Linked DNA regions of Homo sapiens. The protein of the gene in region 2 interacts with the protein of the main gene of each other region in a biochemical or structural test. Each region holds a gene or a part of one and is shown on either strand. Other genes may lie near its edges.

Region 1 (7,746 bases), on a different chromosome or scaffold from region 2:
TGAAAGGAGAGCTCCTTCTTTCTGTTTGCCGGACAAGTTTAAATCAGAGTGAAAAGCACCACACTGACTCAGACCAGAGGCTGATGGGCTCCACTGAATTATGTCTTCCAAGGACAAACTGTAATTTGGAAAAACCCCACAGGAGACGGCGATGCCTATGGGCAGGGTGGGGCCTTGATGCTTATGCTGCCCCCATGCTGTGGGCACTCTCCTCTACAGTGGTTTGCCTAATAACACCATTGTTGAGTCAGGACAGAAATGGCCCTGAGATCCACCTCTTCTGAACCCCAAGCCAGGCACACTCACCTTTAAAGAAGATGTAATTCACCAGGACCATCATTGTCTGCGAGTCAAGGTCCTTGATCAGATCTGTGATTTTCCCCCTAGTTCCATTCTTCACGTAGTCGTTGATGAGCTTCTTAGCTGCAGCTGAGTCCTGAAAGTCAGTGGCAAAGGCCTCGGAGCCATACAGCCTCTTGGCATCCTCCGTGAACCTGTCCAGCAGACTGAGTTGCTCTTTGACAAACATGGCATTTCCCATACTCAGCTGCAGCTCATCGCTGGACTGATTGAGGGTGCGCAGGAGGTGCTGGAAGCTCTGGTGAATTTCTGCCTCAGAAGTCTCCGTGAGGTTGAACTTGAGGCCTTTGAGAATCTCTGTCAGGGTGGTATTATGGGCCCCCAGAGACAGGAAGGCCAAGGCGGTGGAGATGCTCAGTGGGGAGAAGATGACATTCTTATCAGGGGCCTTCAGGACTAACTGCTTGTACAGGCTGAAAGCGAAGTCCACGTTGGCGGAGGCTAATCCGAGGTCCACGTGTGTCCCTCGGTCTTGGTTCTCCTGGGTCAGATTCTCCTCGTCAAGTGGGCTGTTAGGGTGGCAGAGGACAGCAGGGCAGAACCCAGCCGCCAAGAGCCCCAGAGCCAGGAGAGGTAACATTCTCTCCATTCTCAACTCTGAAAAGCAAAGCTCCTTTAAGTCTCAGAGGGCCAGATGGAGCCCCGACCACCTCCCACTGCCCTCCACCCAGCCTGCGTCCTGGTCCCTGTCCTGCTGCCTCTTGCTAGCTTTGGAGCCTCCCTCAGGTAGGTGCTCTCTGGGGCACCCGACACACATCACTCTGCTTCATTTCACCCTTTGAGGTAGGTACCATAATTGTTGCCATTTTCTTGCAGTGGAAAAGCCGGGCACAGAGCGGTGAGGGGGCTTGCCCAAGATCATACAGCAAACAGGTAAAGGAGCCCAGTGGGCAGCCAGGTTTGCCTGGCTCCTCGGTCTGTAAGCTGATGGGGGGTCCGAGGTTCAGTCCAATCAGAATGCCTGCTCCTCTCCTGCTTGGTGAGCAGATCTCATCCTAGGGGATTAGAAAGCAGGGGCTCCCTTCCTTCATTCTCCCAACTGCCACCAAAGTAGAACCCAGGGATGAAGGAGCCCTGGGCAGAGATAGAGGCCACAGTGACTCTCCCAGCCTCTAGATGTCACGTGGTGTGGCCTCCACAGGCCTCCACGATGTGATGCTGGGTGGCAGTGAGGGTCGACTGAGAGAGGGAAATGAAAGTCCCTGGTACAGTGTCTGGAGCCTCGATGGCCCTGATAATGGTTGGCAGCAAGACCAAAGAAAGGCAAATGTTCTTCTCTGCCCCTGCCAGGTTGCCACGTGGTGTCTGTGTCCACCATAAGCCTGGAAGGGCCTCTTAGTGGGGAGAAGGCAGAGAGGGCTTTGGAGTCTCCCAGACTTGGACTGGGATTTTATTTTGGCCACTTTTGATTGCTGTGTACTGGCAAGCAGGTGACTGTACATCTCTCAACCTGTTTCCGTCTCTGCACAACCTGTTAAGTGGCTCAGGTGAGATAAATGATGAAGGCACCTGGTTCATATTAGACGTACCGAGCAGTCACCACCTCCCATACTACCCCTTTCCTGAAACTACAAGCCAGAGAAGAGCCATGAGCTACTGCACAAGAGACCCTGGAAGGGCTGAGTTCCAAGCCGGTGACCGCAGCAAACAAGATTATTCACCTTCAGCCTCCGCCCACTCAGTCCTAGAATTCAGAAGAGAAAAGGGGCAGCTTGGGTGCTGGGGAGAAGAGTGGGGAAGAGAGGCGATTGGAAGGGAGGGGAGGGGAGAGGGGTAGAGAGAGGAGAAGAAAAGGGGAAGAGAGAGTGGAAGGAAGGGAAGGAAGGAAAGGAAGGGAAGGAGGGGAAGGAGGGGAAGGAGGGGAAGGAGGGGAGGCCAGTGGAAATGCCTTTGGCCAAGCCCAGGGACAGAGGCACCTTGTTTGCTTCAACTGTTCACTCTCAGGCTGATGCAATCATTTCTCTGGATAAATGTTAGACAATATTTTTCTCCAGAATTATTTCAGGGGCAAAGGCTTGTCTTTTCTGTTTGGGCAAGTTGGAGGGCTGGCTGTTTCCCAGCAGTTTGTCTTTTCTGTTGCTGGACAGAGACACAGCCCATCTGTCGACTTGGCCAGGGGTCCTTTTGGGGAAGTGGAGCTCCCGAGGCAGCCCCATGGAGACCCTGAAATCATGGTGAGGCCTGTGGCCTCTGCTCAGAGGGACCTGCTGCAATAATCACATCTGCCACATGTTCTGAGAGCTGCACCCTGCTCCAGGCAAGGGGACAGCACCTCTTCCCTGAGGGTCAGATGCACAGCTGACTCAAATCCGAATCTGTAAGTATCAAGGCAGAAATGACCATAGAGGCCCCAGGGCACCTCCACCCTTTGCAGGTGTGAAAACCCAGACACAGAGGATGCCTCTAAAAAAGGCACAGGGAATCAGTGGCAGCCAAGAACAGACCCCTGGCCCCTAACACCTGAGTACACCTCCTCCTGGCCTCTGCTTACCCCTCACACTCCACACACTCCAGGCTGCTGCCTAAAACTCTCCTGGAAAAACAGATTCCTCCGCTCCCAGGATGTAAAACATCATGGATTACCTGCCTCAGGGAGCTGGATGTAGCTGGTGGATTCCAAAGCCGTCTGTCTGGAGTAGTGGATTTTCATGAATGCTGAGGCTTATTTATTCCTGCAGAGAACTCCTCCCCCTGCTTGGGAAATGCCAGGACAACCAAGTGTTCTGTTCTCGGACTGGAAATGACCAGATGATAATTTCTGGTAATACGGGCTTGTTAGACCTACTCAAATAACCTGGTTATGGGACTAGCTCTAATCTCTTCCTCCAAAGGTCAAAAAAGCACACAGAAAAAATCCTTTGTTGTATTAGTTTTTATCTGCTTATTAAATACTCATTGAAGAACATGGAAAAACTCAGAGAATGTAAAGAAGGACTTTGGAAAATATCCCCCAGCACTTTACTACCCAGAGAAGACCCCAGCTAACATTTTGGTATATTTCTTTTTTATTTCTTTTTATTTTTTATTTTTATTTTGAGACAGAGTCTTGCTTTGTTGCCCAGGCTGGAGTGCAGTGGCGTGATCTCAGCTCACTGCAACCTCTGACTCCCGGGTTCAAGCAACTTTCTGCCTCAGCCTCCCGAGTAGCTGGGACTACAGGCACACACCACCACGCCCAGCTAATTTTTGTATTTTTCGTAGAGACAGGGTTTCACCTTGTTGGTCGGACTGGTCTTGAACTCCTGACCTCGTGATCTGCCCACCTCAGCCTCCCAAAGTGCTGGGATTACAGGCATGAGCCACCGCACCCAGCCACATTTTGGTGTATTTCTAAAGCACTTTTCTTTGGTGTCTCTGTGTGTGTGTGTGTGTGTGGCTGCATGTGTGTCTGTGTGTCTGTGTGATGTGAATGTCCATATACAAACCTAGATATATTTTTAAAATACAGGACTCTATTTTTCTGTGGATCAGTTTGCATTTTTGGCACCCCTTCACCAACCCCAGAGAGTAGGGCACCTAGAGAGGGGTGTGGAGGGGAGCTTTCGGGGAGCACAGGTGTTGTGAGGAACCCCTTGTCCTCAGGCTCTGTTTCTCTGTGGGGGCCTCCTCAGCCTTGGCCTCTGTCCTGCTGAGCCTCTGCGATTGGTTCACCCCAACAAGTGGTTGTCCCTCCTCCCCGGCCTTCAGGTATCCTTGGGCCTCTCTCTTAGCTAGTCTGGGGTCTTTCTTTGGCTCATGAAAAAGGAAAAAAAAAATCCTGGGCGGGACTAGTGGCTCATGCTGGTAATCCCAGCATCTTGGGAGGCTGACGTGGGCAGACCACCTGAGGTCAGGAGTCCATGACCAGCTTGGCCAACATGGCGAAACCCCATCTTTACTAAAAATACAAAAAAAAAAAAAACAAACAAACTAGCAGGGCATCATGGCGCATGCCTGTAACCCAGCTACTTGGGAGGCGAGGCTGAGGCAGGAGAATCGCTTGAACCCAGGAGGCAGAGGTTGCAGTGAGCCAAGATCACGCCACTGCACTCCAGCCTGGGCAACACAGAGAGACTCTGTCTCAAAAAAAAAAAAATCCTTCCTCTTGATTCCTCATGGTCACAGTCCCCATCCGGGGTAGCCCTGACAGGCCTCTCTAGAGGGCATGCTTTGGAGGCCACCAGACCAGTGGCGAGGTTCTAGCTCTGGCATGAGCTGACCTGGCTTGAATCTCTGATGTCTGACTCACCAACTGACTCACTTCAAACAAATCATGGGAAATCTCTACAGCTTAATTTCCTCATGTCTAAGATGCAAGGCAATATTCCCTGACAGAGTGGTAATCAAGATGAAATGAAATGATATTAAATGTACACTCTACGAGGACAGGATTTTTTGTTTGTCTGTTGCGATAGTGCTGCATCTTTAGAGGACTTACATATTTGTTGACTGTAAGGCACTAAGATGACCAATAACTGTCTGGGCCCATCTTTCTTAAATGACTTTCAGGCTCCCAGTTTTGGAATTGAATGTGTGTGTGTGTGTGTGTGTGTGTGTGTGTGTGTGTGTGTGTGTCTTTATATATATATCTCTCTCTATGTGTGTGTGTGTATATATATACATATATACGTATACACATATATAATATATTATATATTTTTATATATATATTATATATATATATATATATATATAGAGAGAGAGAGAGAGAGAGAGAGAGAGAGACTCGCTTTGTCACCCAGGCTGGAATGTAGTGGCGCAATCATTGCTCGTTGCTTACTGAAGACTCTGACTCCTGGACTCAAGATATCCTGCCGCCTCGACTCAAGATATCCTGCCGCCTCAGCCTTCTGAGTAGCTGGAACCATAGGTGCACAACGCCATGCCTGGCTAATTTTTAAATTTTTATTTTTTTGTAGAGGCAGGGTTTCATTGTGTTGTCCAGGCTAGTCTTGAAATCCTGGCCTCAAGGGATCCTCCCACCTCAGCCTCCCAAAGTGCTGGAATTACAGGTGTGAGCCACTGTACCTGGCCAATACATATGTTTAAGTTACACAGAATCCTAAAGAAATAGTTGCTAAAATGAGACTGAAGTTCATTTCCCTCTCCTGCAGGTCCAGCTGGAGGCAGTGGGTTGATATGGTGCCTCCACGTTGTCAGAAACCACGTCCTCCTGTCTGGTTGCTCAGCTGCCCCTCCACGTCTGTTTGTCTAGGCTAAGATGGCTCACTGCTATGTCCACCTTCCAGTCCATAGAAAGGGCCACAGGGGAAGGGAAGGGCACACCCTTTCTTTTGAAAGGAATGCCTTGAACATTGCCTGTCATTCCCACTTGTGTTGTGTTGCCTGGAGTTTTGTCCCATGGCCATACCTAGCTACAAAGGAGGCTGTGCAGTGCAGTCAAGATTCTAGGTAGCCACCTCCCAGCTAAAAATTCAGAGTTCCATTACCATGAGAGAGACAAAGAGAGTGGACATTGGGGATGACTAGTCATCTTGCCTCAGAGCATTATCTGAGTGTTCTCAAGTTCTCCGGCCTCAGAGCATCATTTTCCTTCTTTCTTTCTTTTCTTAAATTATACTTTAAGTTGTGGGGTACATGTGCACAACGTGCAGGTTTTTTACATAGGTATACATGTGCCATATTGGTTTGCTGCACCCATCAACTTGTCATTTACATTAGGTATTTCTCCTAATGCTATCCCTCTGCCAGCCCCCAACCCCCCAACAGGCCCCAATGTGTGATAGTCCCCTCCCTGTGTCCATATGTTTTCGTTGTTCAGCTCCCACTTATGAGTGAGAACATGTGGTGTTTGGTTTCCTGTTCCTGTATTAGTTTGCTGAGAATGATGGTTTCCAGCTTCATCCATGTCCCTGAAAAGGACATGAACTCATCCTTTTTTATGGCTGCATAGTATTCCATGGTGTATATGTGCCATATTTTCTTTATCCAGTCTATTATTGGTGGACATTTGGGTTGGTTCCAAGTCTTTGCTATTGTGAATGGTGCCACAATAAACATATGTGTGCATGTGTCTTTATAGTAGCATGATGTATAATCCTTTGGGTATATATCCAGTAATGGGATTGCTGGGTCAAATTGTATTTCTAGTTCTACATCCTTGAGGAATTGCCACACTGTCTTCCACAAAGGTTGAACTAATTTACAGACCCACCAACAGTGTAAAAGCATTTCTATTTCTCTGCATACTCTCCAGCATCTGTTGTTTCCTGACTTTTTAATGATCCCCATTCTAACTGGTATGAGATGGTATCTCATTGTGGTTTTGATTTGCATTTCTCTAAGGACCAGTGATGATGAGCATTTTTTCATATGTCTGTTGGCTTCATAAATGTCTTCATTTGAGAAGTGTCTGTTCATCTCCTTCGCCCACTTTTTGATGGGATTGTTTGTTTTTTTCTTGTAAATTTGCTTAAGTTCCTTGTAGATTCTGGATATTAGCCCTTTGTCAGATGGATAGATTGCAAAAATTTTCTCCCATTCTGTAGGTTACCTGTTCACTCTGATGATAGTTTCTTTTGCTGTGCAGAAGCTCTTTAGTTTAATTAGATCCCATTTGTCAATTTTGGCTTTTGTTGCCATTGCTTTTGGTGTTTTAGTCATGAAGTCTTTGCCTATGCCTATGTCCTGAATGGTATTGCCTAAGTTTTCTTCTAGGGTTTTTATGGTTTTAGGTCTTACATTTAAGTCTTTAATCCATCTTGAGTTAATTTTTGTATAAGGTGTAAGGAAGGGATCCAGCTTCAGCTTTCTACATATGGCTAGCCAGTTTTCCCAGCACCATTTATTAAATAGGGAATCCTTTTCCCATTTCTTGTTTTTGTCAGGTTTGTCAAAGATCAGATGGTTGTAGATGTGTGGTGTTATTTCTGAGGCCTCTGTTCTGTTCCATTGTTCTATATATCTGTTTTGGTACCAGTACCATACTGTTTTGGTTACTGAAGCCTTGTAATATAGTTTGAAGTCAGGTAGTGTTATACCTCCAGCTTGGTTCTTTTGGCTTAGGATTGTCTTGGCTATGCAGGCTCTTTTTTGGTTCCATATGAAATTTAAAGTAGTTTTTTCCAATTCTGTGAAGAAAGTCAGTGGTAGCTTGATGGAGATAGCATTGCATCTATAAATTACTTTGGGCAGTATGGCCATTTTCATGATATTGATTCTTATTATCCATGAGCATGGAATGTTCTTCCATTTGTTTGTGTCCTCTTTTATTTCGTTGAGTAGTGGTTTGTAGTTCTCCTTGAAGAGGTCCTTCACATCCCTTGTAAGTTGGATTCCTAGGTATTTTATTCTCTTTGTAGCAATTGTGAATGGGAGCTCACTCATGATTTGGCTCTCTGTTTGTCTGTTATTGTTGTATAGGAATGCGTGTGATTTTTGCACATT
Region 2 (7,569 bases):
ATCTCACCTCACTGCAATGTCCATCTCCCAGGTTCAAACAATTCTCGTGACTCAGCCTCCAAAGTAGCTAGGATTTCAGGCGCACGCCATCATGCCCAGCTAATTTTTTTTGGTAATTTTGGTAAAGATGGGGTTTTGCCATGCTGGCCAGGCTGGTCTCAAACTCCTGATCTCAAGTGATCTGCCCACCTCAGCCTCCCAAAGTGCTAGGATTACAGGCGTGAGCCACAGTGCCGTGCCACAGATGTTCTTTGAAGTTACTGCCTTCACTACATCCCACAAGCTTTGCTGCAGTTTGGCGATGATATACTTAGATTTGCTTTGCTTTGTTGCATTTATCCATTTTGGGGTTTGTTGAGTGTATTGTATTTGTGAGTGGTTGTTTTTTTCTTTCTGTTTTAACAGCCTTAGTGAGATACAATTGACGTACTACACAATTCACCTATTTAAAGTATATTTAAGTCAGTGTTTTTTTAGTATTTAATATACTAAACCGGGTTATACAATCATTGCCATAATCCAATTTTAGAACATTTTCACATCCCCTAAAAGAAATCTTACAGTCATTAGCAGTTAATCTGTAACCTTATCTACTCCCTATCCCTAAGTAACTACTAACCTACTTTCTGTCTTTGTAAGTTTGCCTATTCTGGACATATCATATAACTGGAATTATACAATAGGTGATTTTTTTGTGACTGGCTTCTTTCACATGGCATGTTTTCAAAACTCATCGATGTCACAGCATATATCCACACTTCATTTCATTATATTGCAGAATAATATTCCACTGCATAGATATACCACACTTTGTTTATTCCTTCTTCAGTTGATGAGCATTTGGGTTGTTTACAAACTTTTTGATTATTGTGAATAATGCTGCTATGAACATTTTTGTACAAGTTTTTGTGTGGCCATATGTTTCTTTTCTCTAGAAGTGGAATTGTTGGGTAATATAGTAACTCTACATTTAGCTTTTGGAGGAACTGCCAAATTGTTTTCCTAAGGGGCTCCATCATTTTGAGTTCCTAGCGGTAATGTGAGAGGGTTCCAATTTCTCCACATGTTCAACACTTTTTCTTGTCTATCTTTTTGATTATAGCCATCCTACTTGGTGAGAAGTAGCATGTCATTGTAGTCTTGATCTGCATTTCCCTGATGACTACAGATGTTGAGCATCTTTTCATGTGATTATTGGTCATTTCCATATTTTTGAAGAAATGTCTATTCAACTTGTTTGCCCATTAACAAAAAAAGGGGGGTTGTTTTAGTTGTTGAGTTGTAAGAATCTTTGACAAATTCTGGATCTAAGTACCCTATCAAGTATGTGGTTTACAAATATTGTCTCCTATTCTCTTGTCTTTTTACTTTGTTGATAATATTGTTTGCAGCATACGTTTAATTTCTGTGCAGTCCAATTTATCTATTTTTTTTCTTCTGTCATTTATGTTTCTGTGTCATATATAAGAAACCACTGGCTAACCCAAGGTCACTAAGATTTACTCCCTTTTTTTCTTACAAGAGTTTGGTAGCATTAACTCATACATTGAGGTCTAGGATTCATTTTGAGATATTTTTTTCATCTGTGGTTTTATGTCTTTCATTACTTTTGTAAAATTCTTGGCTATTATATCTTCAAATATTGCTTCTGCTTCATTCTCTGTCTCCTCTTTTTCTAAGGCTCCAGTTATACCTATCCTGGGTTTATTCATTGTACACATGCCTATTAAGCTGTGTTCTATTTTTTCCATTTGTTTTTCTCTCTGTGCTTGAGTTTAGGTATTTTTTCTTGCTCAGTCTCCAAATTCACTAACCCTCTGTTCTGCTGTGTCCAGGTTGCTATTAAACTGATCCATTGCAATATTCCTTTCAGAAATTACATTTTTCAGTTAAATATTTTCCATTGATTCTTTTTTATGGATTTTAATACTCTTAAAATTCTGCATATTTTAATCCATCTTGTTCATGTTTTCTTCTATTTTATAACCTATGGCTTTATTTCATAATAGTTATTTTAAAGTTCTTATCTAAACTTCAATAGTTGGCTTATCTGTGGATCTTCTATTATTTTTTTTTTCTTGATTGTTGGTCAAATTTTCCTGCTCTTCTCACACCTCATAATTTTTTTTTACAAATGTTAGACTTTTATATTAAAGATCTATAGACAATATAGATGATGTTATTTTCTTCTAGGGATAAACATAGACAAATAGGATGATGTTCTGATTATCTCTGTCTAATCAAGGATGAGCTGGGTTGGGATTGGGGTGCGGTTTCAGTAAGATAGTTCTCTTGTGGTTTCTCTCTCTTCTTCATGTGTGATTCCTCTGGGCTTTTGATCAAGAGCCTGGACAGCTGCTGTTTCCTCTGCTCTGAGATTCAGTTCTGCCTTTGAGAGGTTTTAAACGTAGATCTTCAGCCTCCTTCTCATACAACTTCAAAAATAGTGTAAATGTCTTGAAGGGGGAGAATGCTTGTGTATTTGAGGCAGGATCCTTCTAAGCAGAATTAGCTTTCTATGCAGTAGAATATGGGGTAATTTTACTCTGCCTATCACGCCCAGCTGCTCAGCCTCCTGCACCACCCCAGAACTCAGCGAATGTCCTGTGGGAAAACTGGCTATATGTTTGGGGCTCCTCTATATTTCCAATCCATTTCACAGCTCACATGATGGTTAAACATCTCACTGGTTTCTCTTTTTCTGTGTAAACTCCCTCTGCCCAGGCCAAGCTGGATGAGTCTATGCCCAGAATTAGTACATGTCACCAGGGAAGAAAACAGTGGATACTGTCACTCCCTTAGTTCAGACCTCAGCAAAAGATTTATTCAATTGCACTGTAATTTTTGGGACAATGACTGAATAGGTAAAGAGGCCAAGCTAGAAGTCTAAATATGAATATCACTGTGGTCTTTGCAGGAACCTGGACAAGCAAGAAGATCATCTCAGGGTGGACAAGTGTCATTGGAGCTGGGCAGCATGAATTTTTGAGTAATACCTTATGTCCATGAGAAGTATTATTAATAGAATCCAATTCTGTTTCAGCATGGCCTTAGAAAGAGGATGGGCTATCTTTAGATGGAGTAAGTCCCCGAGGTTCTCAGACAACATAAAGGTAAAACTCAAAAGGGAAATACTAGGCTGTCTGCTACAAGATCGGGGTAAGAATCCCAGATTTGTGGCAATATGGCACCAGTTTCAAAGGTTTTATTGCACTTAATCTAATGATCAAATTAGGAGAAAAGATGAATGTTACTATAATATGTAAAAGTAGTGCTTAAGATCATTAATTTCATCTTATTTCGATGTTTTGTTCATTGAATAAACAGTAACCTAATTTAGGGACTTGGTAAAGATGACGTTCACTTTAAGAAAACTGATATAACCAAAAATAAACTAGGCTGGGGGTGGTGGCTCATGCCTGTAATCCCAGCAGTTTGGGAGGCTGAGGTGGGTAGATCACATCATGTGAGGTCAGGAGTTTGAGACCAATCTGGCCTACACGGTGAAACCCCGTCTCTACTAAAAATACAAAAAATTAGCCAGGCATGGTGGCAGGAGTCTGTAATCCTAGCTACTCGGGAGGCTGAGCCAGGAGAATTGCTTGAACGTGGGAGGCAGAGGTTGCAGTGAGCCGAGATGGTGTCATTGCACTCCAGCCTGTGCAACAAGAGCAAAACTCCGTCTCTAAATAAATAAATAAATAAACTAAAAATCTGTGGTAGGGGGAATGGTGGTAGGGAGGTAGTCACAGGATTCAGTTCAACTAATTGAGTGCTCTCATGTGCTATGCATTGTGCTAAGCACACAATAATAAAGTCCACACAAGAGAATTGTGGTGGAGAAAATAACTTGAAAAGAGCTTGAACAGAAGCAATGCAAGACTAGAAGGTGAGACATTGTTATGGGAGAGGAGGTTTTTAGCCTGTCTTTTAAAACAGAAACATCTCAATTGAGGTCTGTTTTCAAAGGAACCCCAACTGGAGGTGGGCTAAGGTGGATAAACTACATTTCTCCTCCAACTATGATTGAGTCACCATTATTAACTGTTAATTCTACCAGGTCATTTTATGGTATTATGCCTGTAAATCTTAATTCATAATTAGAAGTATACTTTTTGTTTTGGTTTCAATTCCTTTTCTGCTCTACCTCTCTCTACTTACTAGATTTGCCCCTTTTAGAACCTGGTTCAACTTGTCCTGTCTTCTTTGCTGATGGACTAATTAAATGCATGGAAGCCATAATCAATTAATCAGGCTTCAAATATGCTTTTAGTGTTCGATAGCTAGGGGAGAGGAAGACAGTAGCTATTTCAGGGGAAGTCCACGTGGGGCGTTCCAGATGGACGCGAGATGGCTATAACCGTCCCTGTCTCTCAGCCCATGTGGGCGCAGGTACAGCTGCTCCGTGCGCGCCAGTGATTGAGAGGCATTTCACCCAGGCCCAGATCTGGGGCGCCAGGCGTCCAGGCTTCCGGCCACGCCCCCTTCCCGCGGTTGCTAGGAGACATGATGTCACCGGAAGCGAGGCCTGGGATAGGCTGAGGCGAAGGGAAGCCTCACCCACTGTGCAGCCCAGGCGCCGGGCGCTGCCTCTACAGCTGTGTGTAGGCCTGGGGGCGAGGGTCTTCGGAACGTAGCGCTGGCTGCGGCCCCGCCCGCCTACCCACCCGCCCGTCCGGCAGCCGGCTCCCGCCGCCTCCGCGCTCTGTCTGGGGCCAGCCACCTGGCGGGCCGCTCCGGTGCGCCTGCCCGCGCTTTTCACTGACAGGCGCTGTTCCCCACAGCCAGCGCCGCCCGCCACGTCCCAGCTCTCGGCCAACGGAGCTGCGCGGCGGGTGACCTTTCCGAGCCCAGCGCGATGACGGCTCCTTGCTCCCAGCCGGCGCAGCTTCCTGGACGCCGCCAGCTCGGGCTGGTGCCGTTCCCGCCGCCGCCGCCGCGGACGCCGCTGCTGTGGCTGCTGCTGCTGCTGCTGGCCGCCGTGGCGCCGGCGCGCGGCTGGGAGAGCGGAGACCTGGAGTTGTTTGACTTAGTGGAGGAGGTGCAGCTCAACTTCTACCAGTTCCTCGGGGTGCAGCAGGTAAGCAAGGAGGCGCGCGGGGCCGGGCGGAGAGGGGCCAGGGCAGGCGTCAGGCGACCCGGTTCCTCAGAGACAGCCGGACACGTAGGGCAGGGCTTGGTCACCCCGGGCTCTGGCTGCCCTCAGCTCGGGTCACCGGGGTCCTCAGCCTTGGAAGGACGTGTCCGTCTTCCCCAGATCTTTACTCCTGCTTCAACTTTTCTAGTCCCAGCCCCAGTGACAGGCTGGACGGCGCCACTAGCCTAGGGTGGCGATGCCTTCTCTCTGCTCCGGCGTTCTGGGGAAGAGCCTTCCCCCTCCAGCTGTGCTGGAGGAAGAACGAAGAGTGGTGTGGGTAGACTTTTTTTTTTTTTTAATTTAACACCTACCTTTTGCCTTCCTGTCCCCCTGAATGTGAGAAAGAGCAGCCGCTTCTCACCCTAAACTGTCATCTTCCACCGATACTTACCTCATCCTTATTCTTATTTCAGCTGCCTCCCCTCCTCTTCCCTTCTGGGAAAGTAGGAATGCACTGTGGCCAGTGTCTGTGTTGCAAAAGTTTTTCTTACTTTGTACTTCGTCATCTTTTTAGCCTGTTAGGTAGATGTTTGTTTCGCTTTCGCAGTTTAGAAATCTGGAGGAATTTGAAGCGTCTAACCAGGTTGGAGGTGTTAAGTTTTTTGAGCAGCAAAGGACTTGGGATGCGATTGGAAGAGAAGCCCCCGGTCAGTAATGTAGGAATGGGTTTTTTTTTCCCCTTTTCCTTTTGTTTCATTTCGTTTTCTTCTATAGCTTAAGACATTAACTTGTAAAATCCATTTGTTGCTTTTTAGTTCTACCATTGAGGGTGGTTGAGTGAGGGTAGATATCCAGTCTCTACCTGAAGCCTTGTGCGAAGGAGAAGATAACATTTCGCTGATTTCAGGCTTATGGGGTGAAAAATGTACACTTCACACGATCTGATTGAGCCCTTCGTACAATGCTTTGAATAGTTATGGGAGTAAAAAATTAATGTTTACGATAGTTGCCATTCAAGGCACACTTCACATGACTAGATATGAAATGCACATCCCCTTCCCCCATAGGTTATCATAAATGTGGGTGAACTATTGAACTTTTACTGAATTTTAATTTTCAGACATTGCATTTTCATTCCATCAGTGAATATAAAATTGCTGGGTTGCCAGGGTACCATGAGTGAAACAATTTTTTATTTTTGTAAGAGTTATAAAGTATAGGCATTTCACACTTCAGATTCATATGTGCAAGCAACTTTGTAATAACTATATTTATGATCTGTTGCCTGGTGCCCCTCCCTGCTTATAGATACACTATATATCTCATTTTCAAAGCAAATGATGGAGTATGTGTAAAAATAATTAGTGAAGCTCTGATGACTTTTAAGAACTACTTTAATACTGGGAATAATTAGAATTTATCATTGATTACATTCTGTACGTAAAGAGAGTCTTAAACATAATCTATCCAGAAATCTTGAAGATCCAGTTATTCATGAAAAATTAAGTGCCTTTAAGAGAACAGAAATTTAGTAGCAGTTTAAAATTTAGATCATGTAATCTAGCTTTGCATGTGAACACTCATAGAATTTTCATTTATAATTTCATGTAACTTGATTTGCATAGTTAATTAGGCAGTGTGAACAACCAGAGCACTTGACTCTCTGGGCAAAGATGAGAAAATAAAGAAGCATAGATAATCAAGAAGATTCTTTGTCAAGGTAGAATCCGAAAAGAAGGATCCAGAAAATTGTTTTAACCTGTGTTTCTCTATCCAGCTGTATTAAAATTGGAAAGAATGCCAGGAGGAATTTTATTCTGTCCAAGCAGAGAAACTGAATGGAACAAGTTTTTTTCTTTACATTGAATCTTAACTTTGTTAGATGACTTTCAGGGACCAGAAATTTGGTGGAGACAAATGCAACCTGTCCAGGGTCTTTCATGTGTAGTTTTCAAGCCAGAGCCATTTGGTGACTAGCCAAACATGAGGGACCAGAACAAAGTAGGTAGGCTGCTGAAAGTGGTGACCTGGCTCTGTGCACTAATCTCTTCTTGTTCACGCAACAGAGATTTGTTTGGTGCCTATTGGATTTTAAGCATTGGGAGTTGACCTTTATATAAAACAAAACCCCTAAGCTTATAATTCAGTAGGGAGAAACAGACAGTAAACAGCCAAGTAAGTAAATATAAATGTTATATGGTCAGAGCAGGCCTCTGAGAGAAGTTAGGGAGTAAGCCATGTGGGTAATTGTTGTGTTGTAGGCCATTTGGGCTGCCATAGCAAAATGCCATGAACTGGACAGCTTTTCAACAGGAGAACTTGATTTCTCACAATTCTGGAGGCTGGGAAATCCAAGATTAAGGCACCGGCAGATTCTGTGTCTGGTGAGGGCCTTCTGGTCATAGATGGCACCTTCTTGCTGTGTCCTCACATGGTGGTACGGGCAGGGCAGCTCTCTGGGGCTTCTTTTATAAGGACACTAATCTCATCCA

What was found. Proteins that work in one complex are often made in the same cells at the same time.
Region 1: the proteins of DNAJC1 (region 2) and SERPINA3 form a complex in vitro, tested with the Homo sapiens proteins (one study listed by BioGRID).

Annotation. Positions count from the first base shown.
Region 1 is NC_000014.9:94,607,645-94,615,390, reverse strand, and holds the start of SERPINA3 (alpha-1-antichymotrypsin precursor), read right to left. Parts: upstream 3,001-7,746; 5' UTR 2,944-3,000; exon of another isoform or gene 2,852-2,943; intron 2,045-2,851; exon of another isoform or gene 2,022-2,044; intron 1,356-2,021; exon of another isoform or gene 1,152-1,355; intron 958-1,151; 5' UTR 950-957; coding exon 307-949; intron 1-306. UniProt on the Homo sapiens protein: Although its physiological function is unclear, it can inhibit neutrophil cathepsin G and mast cell chymase, both of which can convert angiotensin-1 to the active angiotensin-2.
Region 2 is NC_000010.11:22,000,724-22,008,292, reverse strand, and holds the start of DNAJC1 (dnaJ homolog subfamily C member 1 precursor), read left to right. Parts: upstream 1-4,562; 5' UTR 4,563-4,858; coding exon 4,859-5,080; intron 5,081-7,569. UniProt on the Homo sapiens protein: May modulate protein synthesis.